Linked DNA regions of Homo sapiens. The protein of the gene in region 1 purifies or fractionates together with the protein of each later gene. This does not show direct contact. Each region holds a gene or a part of one and is shown in the gene's direction. Other genes may lie near its edges.

Region 1 (3,500 bases):
AAGTATTTACTCTTAAGCACTTTCAAAATGCTATTTAAATACTCTTGCCTCAACAAGATTTTCTAGATTCAAATTAAGTATTCTGCCAAAAGCTGAATATGCCTGACAGAACTCTTAATGTATGGGAAATATTATTTTAATGAAATATTAACTAACCTACTTGTATTAAGGGAAAGATTAAATATATATCTGGATCCATATTTTTATGTGATAACTTTCTCCCCTTTTGTAAAAACCAAGATTCCCCCATTTTGTCTGATAGTTTACCAAGAAGAAGTTGACTCTACAATGTTTTCATGTTTAGGGTCACCCTGGAAAACCCGGACGACCTGGTGAGAGAGGAGTTGTTGGACCACAGGTGAGACTTTTTACATTGGTAGATAGCACAAACATCATAGGCCTATAAGATAGTTGCTAAAACTAGCATCAATCTAAATGACAACATAGATGTCACCCAAACTCATAACATGAATCGAAGGCATCTAATAAAGAAAAAAGCCTAGTTAAAAAAAAATGCATATACATTTTATTCATGCAAATAATGGAATATAAATGACAGCAAGCATACCATAAGCAACTAAATTGTGTTTTCTACAAATACCGTATTATTAGTTACTCACATTAGAGCAAGTTAATTTGTCACTCTGTGCTTAGAGGTATACTAGACTTTGGTTCAAAGCTTGAACTTTGATGAGAATAAATACTTTGGAGGGAAGAAGTCACTGTCTTTTTATTTATGGTAAAACATTATTCACCATCTTCTGTATTTCTTTCTAAGGGTGCTCGTGGTTTCCCTGGAACTCCTGGACTTCCTGGCTTCAAAGGCATTAGGGTGAGCACATTCTTTACTCAGAAGAGAGAAAATGCCTATTAATTTTTGGAAAAAACTCAAGTATGTTTAAAATCTTGGGTGACATATACTCACTTTCAAATCCCTGGAGTTTGCCAAAGGGAAGAAAGAGTTAAAGAGTCAGATTTCTTGAAAGTAAAGTGGGGTGCAATTTTTTCAGTCTGTTCATAGCTACCAAAAAACAGGCTCACTACAGAGAAAATTATATAGAACATGTATTACTTATTGAGTATTTACAACCGTCTGAAAATCATAAAATTATTAAGGATGGAAAAGATGTGAGAGAACACCTAGTCCTCCATCCTTCTCTCTCAATGGCAAGAAAGTTAAGTGACCTATCTAGGGCAATAGACTGAGTTTGCTGGGACCTGGAACACTGGACTTCTTTCTACTGCAGCAGACAAGACTTACCCAAGAGAGATTAATGGCAAAGATATACAATACAATTTTTATTTGACCAAACACTATCATGGAACAGCATTTTATAATAAGGCTTTCCTTTCAGGGACACAATGGTCTGGATGGATTGAAGGGACAGCCCGGTGCTCCTGGTGTGAAGGTAAATATTAAATTAGAAGCACTGTTTTTAAGCACTTGATTGAAATTCCCCATGACCTCCAAAAAAGTATATTATACTGAAGACTACCCATATTACAAAAAGTATTTTTATTTTTTTTCTTTCCTGTACTTCAAATCCCTCAAGGATGGGGACTATGAGAGTCTGTGAAAAAAGGTCAATTATTAATATTTATTAAAATTCAATATCTATTAAACAATTGAGATAAAAATAATATTAATAGTTTCTTGTTCCATTTCCTTTCCTCCCTCTATAATTCCAGTGTATCTCTGCAGCCAAAATAAAAGTAAATAAACATATAATCAGAGATTACGACACTCTGTATTATTTTAAACTGTAAATTCTCCTTTGCCACACACTAATTAGATAGGTACATTCATGTCGCTATACACTTTTCAACCTCTTTCCTGTGATTTATCTGTGCACACTCAAAAAAATTTTAATTAGGTAATTAAAGTCTCAGAAGTGTGTTATCTCTTGGCTAGGCTCTTCTCTGACAGCGTTTTCAACTATAAAATGTTCTCTTTCCTATTAAGGAGATAATGTGATATTAAAGTGAATACCAACGTAATTACAAATTAATGAGTAACGAATACTAGCGGGACCAGAAATGAACATGAATATGGAGAATCTATTCTAACTTTCCAGCTGCCACACAAATGGATAAGGTCAAACTCATTCTCCCAAGAGCCCGATATAACAGCTCAGACTACTAATCACTGTATCATAAAATGTTAGAGCTGCAAGGAGCTTTGGAGACCCCCTCATTTTGCAGAGGTGGGAAACTGAGGCTTCGTGAGAGCAATTGACTTGCCCAAAGTCACACATCTAGAGGTTAGAAAGTCATAGGCTAGAAATGATCCCCCCTTGCCACTTCAATGCTTATTCCCAAAGAATAGACTTCACATAGAATCCTGGAAATTAAGGGTCCTTATGAGGTCTCTTAAACCATATTTCCCCTATATCTAAATCAGATTATCTTTAAAAAAAGTTCTTTTACATGTGCCATAGTATTAAATCCCACTACTACTACTACTACTACCCTGGTTTTTACTCAGGATAAGAATATAGATTGGAAATAAATATGATGGCTCTAAAAAATACCATGAAGCTTCAATTTTTCATGCACATTTTATGAAAGTGATAACACTGAGTGTTCAAAATAACTTTAAAAAGGATAAATATGGTTACATTGAAAGCAAATTTATCCTTTGCCATCTCTTTTTATGATATTGTTTCTAGTATATAATTGATATCCTGAATCTAAGGGAGAAATTGGGGAGGAGGTACACTCAAATAACCACATCTCCTTAGAACCTGGATATGTGGTACTATCTGAATAAAAACTCATGTTAGCACATTTTAAAATCTGTGTGTCTGGCATAATTGAAAAACAATCTATATGTGTAAGAAATATTATGAAGTATATGAATGGTTCAAAGTAAAAAAAATAGAGTAAAATTGCACTATCAGGAAAAATAATTGTTATATTTAATGAACAAAAACTCAATCCTTCTCCATGTAGGGTGAACCTGGTGCCCCTGGTGAAAATGGAACTCCAGGTCAAACAGTAAGTATTGACTACTTCATTGTAAATTTAAATGTGTACACTCTTTATGAGATGGAACTTCTTTAATGTTTTTGCTAATCACTGTATCCTTCAGCATTGTATTCTTTGATGTTTTTCTAATAGCCTTCTGATACTTAATTGAAATCCACTACTGTTTAGTTGGAATTAGAAGGCAACTTATTTATTTTTAGTGTATTCTTGTACAGGTTGGAAACTGAACAAAGCAAATGATGCCTGTGACTTTTTTTAAATTAGCATTCTGGATTTTATTGAAAATATTTCTGCTTCTAGGGAGCCCGTGGGCTTCCTGGTGAGAGAGGACGTGTTGGTGCCCCTGGCCCAGCTGTAAGTGCTTCCATTTTTGTTCAGTTTCATCCTTTTAAAAAATCTTCTAATGGCTGTCATTTAAGTTTCCACCTGATCTTCCCTTTATTTTCTTCTTAGGGTGCCCGTGGCAGTGATGGAAGTGTGGGTCCCGTGGGTCCTGCTGTAAGTTTTGACAC
Region 2 (4,120 bases), on another chromosome or scaffold:
TAAAAGGAAAAGGGGGAACTTGAAGCCCAGAAGTCATTGTTTCCTTTATTTCAAAGGGAAAAACCTGCCCGATTCTCATCCTTTTGATTGATTAAGGCCCTGAATACCTCGCGGCCCCGGAGTGACAGTCCCTGAATAGGCTCGAGCGAATAAAGCGCAGTGCAGAGCGCGGGGCTGGCACTCGGGGGTGTAAAGGAGGCGAGTTCGCTGGCACTTACCAAGTTATAAATAAAAGGCTATGCACAATGGTACCTTCTCTAAGGACAGACAGTCTTTACAACACTCCTGGCGTCATATCCTGCTGGGGACACTTCAGCTCCTAGCCAAGACTTCGTTCCTTTTATTTTTCCAGCAGTTTAGTCTGAATGCCATAATAAATTCCTGAGAACAAACGCTGAACCCGGGCAAAACTTTAACATACAGACACATCTCTGTCGACGCATCGGGGATCTATATGTAGAGATTTAGAACCGCAGCTTGCCAGAGCGGTTTTTACACCAAGAAGAGGAGCCAGGTTTTTTTCTGCACCCTCCCCCATACCCCCAGCCTTCAACTAACGAGTGCTTGGGCCTAGCGACGGCTGCCTGTGCTTCACATTAGCCCCGCTTGCGGACGGAGAAGACAAAAGAACATCAGCGCACCCTGGACTCCTCCCAGGAGGAGCCCCATCGGGAGGACCCCTTAACAAGCCTAGGCCAAGGGGCACTGACCACAGGAAGGAAAGCTAAATATGTCTGGGGCCCCAGATGCCTTCTTATTGGAATTGTGCCCCCTCCAGTGGCAGTAAGCCAAGAGAAATGAGAGCGAGACCTACAGGTAGAAAAAATGAGACATAGAGAGAGACACAGGAAATCACAAGAGGAATAGAGGCTGAGCGAGACACACACACAGAGGCACAGAAAGAGACAGAGAGGGAAATAGAAAGTCAAGGAAAGAGTGATCAGAGAAAGACACACACACACACACACACACACACACACACACACACACACACACACACAGAGTGACACAGACAGAGAGACAGAGACAGAGAGACAGGAACTTCTCCGCCCTCAGCAACTGCCATCTCCCTGGGGCTGTCTCTCTCAGTTTCCACCGGGCCAACCTTCTCTCCTGGGCAAGGGGCGCAGCGCGGGTCCCCCTCGGGGCCAGCAGAGGCCTCGGCACCACCAGAGATGGGAAGAGAAAGTGGTCGCTGTTGCCCAATCAGCGCGTGTCTCCGCCACCCGGGACGGTCTACCCGTCGGCCAATCGCAGCTCAGGGCTCCTGACCAAGCTTTGGGTAAAAGAACTAATAAATGCTCCCGAGCCCGGATCCCCGCACTCGGTGTCACCACAGGAGGAGACTCAGGCAGGCCGCGCTCCAGCCTCACCAGGCTCCCCGGCTCGCCGTGGCTCTCTGAGCCCCCTTTTCAGGGACCCCAGTCGCTGGAACATTTGCCCAGACTCGTACCAAACTTTTCCGCCCTGGGCTCGGGATCCTGGACTCCGGGGCCTCCCCGTCCTCCCCTTTCCCGGGTTCCAGCTCCGGCCTCTGGACTAGGAACCGACAGCCCCCCTCCCCGCGTCCCTCCCTCTCTCTCCAGCCGTTTTGGGGAGGGGCTCTCCACGCTCCGGATAGTTCCCGAGGGTCATCCGCGCCGCACTCGCCTTTCCGTTTCGCCTTCACCTGGATATAATTTCCGAGCGAAGCTGCCCCCAGGATGACCACGCTGGCCGGCGCTGTGCCCAGGATGATGCGGCCGGGCCCGGGGCAGAACTACCCGCGTAGCGGGTTCCCGCTGGAAGGTAAGGGAGGGCCTCAGCGCGCCGCCTGGATCCCAGGGCCTGGGACCGGCTGCCTCACCCCATCCCCAGGCTCCGCAGGCTCCTTTGGTGCTTCCAGGAAGCCCATTCCCTGGGCACCCCACACCCCAAGAAGCACCAGTCGGGGGCGAGGACCTACTCGATTTCCTTTCTGCAAATGGAGCGCGCTGCTCTCTGCAAATCCTGGCGGAGCTGGGCGGTCAGGCCTGCGGCGAGCCGGGGAGACTTGTCCCTGTTGTTTTGGAAATGCCGCGGTGGAGAAGGAGGTGAACCGGCTTCTGAGCGGCAGAAGCAACTTCTCCGCAATTTGTCCATTCGAAATTGTCTCGAAGTTGTCTCGAAATTGTCCCGGCTGCGCCCACACTTGTGAAACATATGTTAGTTCAGGAAGTATTTTTTTTTTTTTGCCCTGCAAAGTTGTGGTGGCTAACGCCGCGCCATTGTGATTGGAATTTTTAGAATAATTAAATAAATTAGAATTCTATGTATCTCAAATAGCATCTAGAAGTTTCTATAACTTGTTTAGGAATCGCCTTTCCGTCCACTTGAAGATTCTGGGAATCCCGGGGAGGCAGGAAGTCTTGCAAGCCTGAGCCGTTTTCAATGGTTTTCCAGGTTAGGGCGCCCCAGCAGAGATGCTCATCGCCCCCGCCACCCACTCCCTTCACACCCAGCCTAGAGTAGAATGTAACACCCAGAGCAAGAATGGGGGCTGGGGGCCCAGGAACAGCCCTGCCGCTGCTGTGGTCTCTGTCCCAAGATGTAACAGGTGACACAGGCACTGCTGCTTGGGCCTCCTTTCTGGACCCTCTTTGACCCTTGGCTGCTGCACTTTTGGCTAGAAACCCCAAGGGCTATCAGCTGGCCCAAGTCCCTTAGAAAGGGAGAGATCCCAATTGGACAGGGATCGGTGGGAGCAGAGTTCATCAAGGCCAGCTCCTGGGTGAACTTCTCTTCGCCAGGAGGCTGTTTCTAGAGCAAGCTAGACTCTCTACCAGCTGCAGGGTCTCCTAAGTTGCCACTCCCCGGGCCCGAAGGGGAAGACGCTTTCTCTGGGGAGAATTATTTTGCCCCATTTGCTGTCTTTACACAAGATTACATGCGCTATATTGCTGAATAATTTGAACAAATGTGATTGAAAGGAGGTCTGGGTCTGGGAGTCCGATGTCGAGCAGTTTCAGCGTCGGTGCTGTAACATGAGGATAGGACAGAAGACTGCGAAATTACGTGCTGCTGTTCTTTGCTTTTTATTTTCCTCCAGTGACTTTTCCCTTGCTTCTCTTTTTCACCTTCCCACAGTGTCCACTCCCCTCGGCCAGGGCCGCGTCAACCAGCTCGGCGGTGTTTTTATCAACGGCAGGCCGCTGCCCAACCACATCCGCCACAAGATCGTGGAGATGGCCCACCACGGCATCCGGCCCTGCGTCATCTCGCGCCAGCTGCGCGTGTCCCACGGCTGCGTCTCCAAGATCCTGTGCAGGTACCAGGAGACTGGCTCCATACGTCCTGGTGCCATCGGCGGCAGCAAGCCCAAGGTGAGCGGGCGGGCCTTGCCCTCCTGGCTCCCAGACTGTGGTCCCCTGTGTTGGGGAAGACCGGGCGGGGGGTAACGGCTGACATCTGGGGCTCTCCAATGAGTTATTTCTGAGGTTTGTGAAGGTGCGTAAAGGCGCGCGTGTGTGTGTGTACGTGTGCACGCGCCCTGGACACTTCTTGATGAACACTTAGGGAAAGCTCTTGCCTTTTTGCAAAGGAAAAATAACATCTGTTTTTTAAAGCCCATAAGCCTTGCAATCCTCATCAAATTATTTTAATGGATAAACACCTAAAGCAGGCAAGCTCTATGTGCCCACCTGTTGCCGATTTCTTCCCTAAGTGTCTTCCCGGCTCCCACCCATGGCACCGTCCTTTCCAAAACGAATGTAAGGAACTTCTTTAGGTTTTATAATGGTTTGTCTCCCAAACCCCGCCCTCAGTCTCCCCCAGTGCAAATTGTTTTCAATGAGTCAAATACTAGGGTGATCAGTTTTCTTTGTAATAAGCCAATGACTCCATTAAAAAAAAATAAGCAGTTTGGTGCTATCCTTAAATTATTTTTGGTTCTGTTTTTAAAAAGAAAGAGTCACACCAGCTAGGGCTGAGTGGGAGGGAATTACACAAGGTCTGTCTTTTCTTCTAGTTGCCACCGGGCAAAATCAAGAGGGTTATGGTAAACCGAAGACCTCCAAACACCCTCCTCTTCCTTCCCACCTACTGAAACACTTTCACAGCCTTTCTAAGAATCTTTGGAACCTTCTTCTTCTTTTTAAAAAAT

Evidence for each region. Proteins that work in one complex are often made in the same cells at the same time.
Region 2: the proteins of COL1A2 (region 1) and PAX3 purify together in Homo sapiens (affinity purification with mass spectrometry; one large-scale study listed by BioGRID and IntAct). This does not show direct contact.

What each region holds. Positions count from the first base shown.
Region 1 is NC_000007.14:94,404,895-94,408,394, forward strand, and holds part of COL1A2 (collagen alpha-2(I) chain precursor), read left to right. Parts: intron 1-304; coding exon 305-358; intron 359-778; coding exon 779-832; intron 833-1,355; coding exon 1,356-1,409; intron 1,410-2,952; coding exon 2,953-2,997; intron 2,998-3,288; coding exon 3,289-3,342; intron 3,343-3,441; coding exon 3,442-3,486; intron 3,487-3,500. UniProt on the Homo sapiens protein: Type I collagen is a member of group I collagen (fibrillar forming collagen).
Region 2 is NC_000002.12:222,296,199-222,300,318, reverse strand, and holds the start of PAX3 (paired box protein Pax-3), read left to right. Parts: upstream 1-1,320; 5' UTR 1,321-1,703; coding exon 1,704-1,788; intron 1,789-1,945; exon of another isoform or gene 1,946-2,172; intron 2,173-3,105; coding exon 3,106-3,341; intron 3,342-4,120. UniProt on the Homo sapiens protein: Transcription factor that may regulate cell proliferation, migration and apoptosis. Involved in neural development and myogenesis. Transcriptional activator of MITF, acting synergistically with SOX10.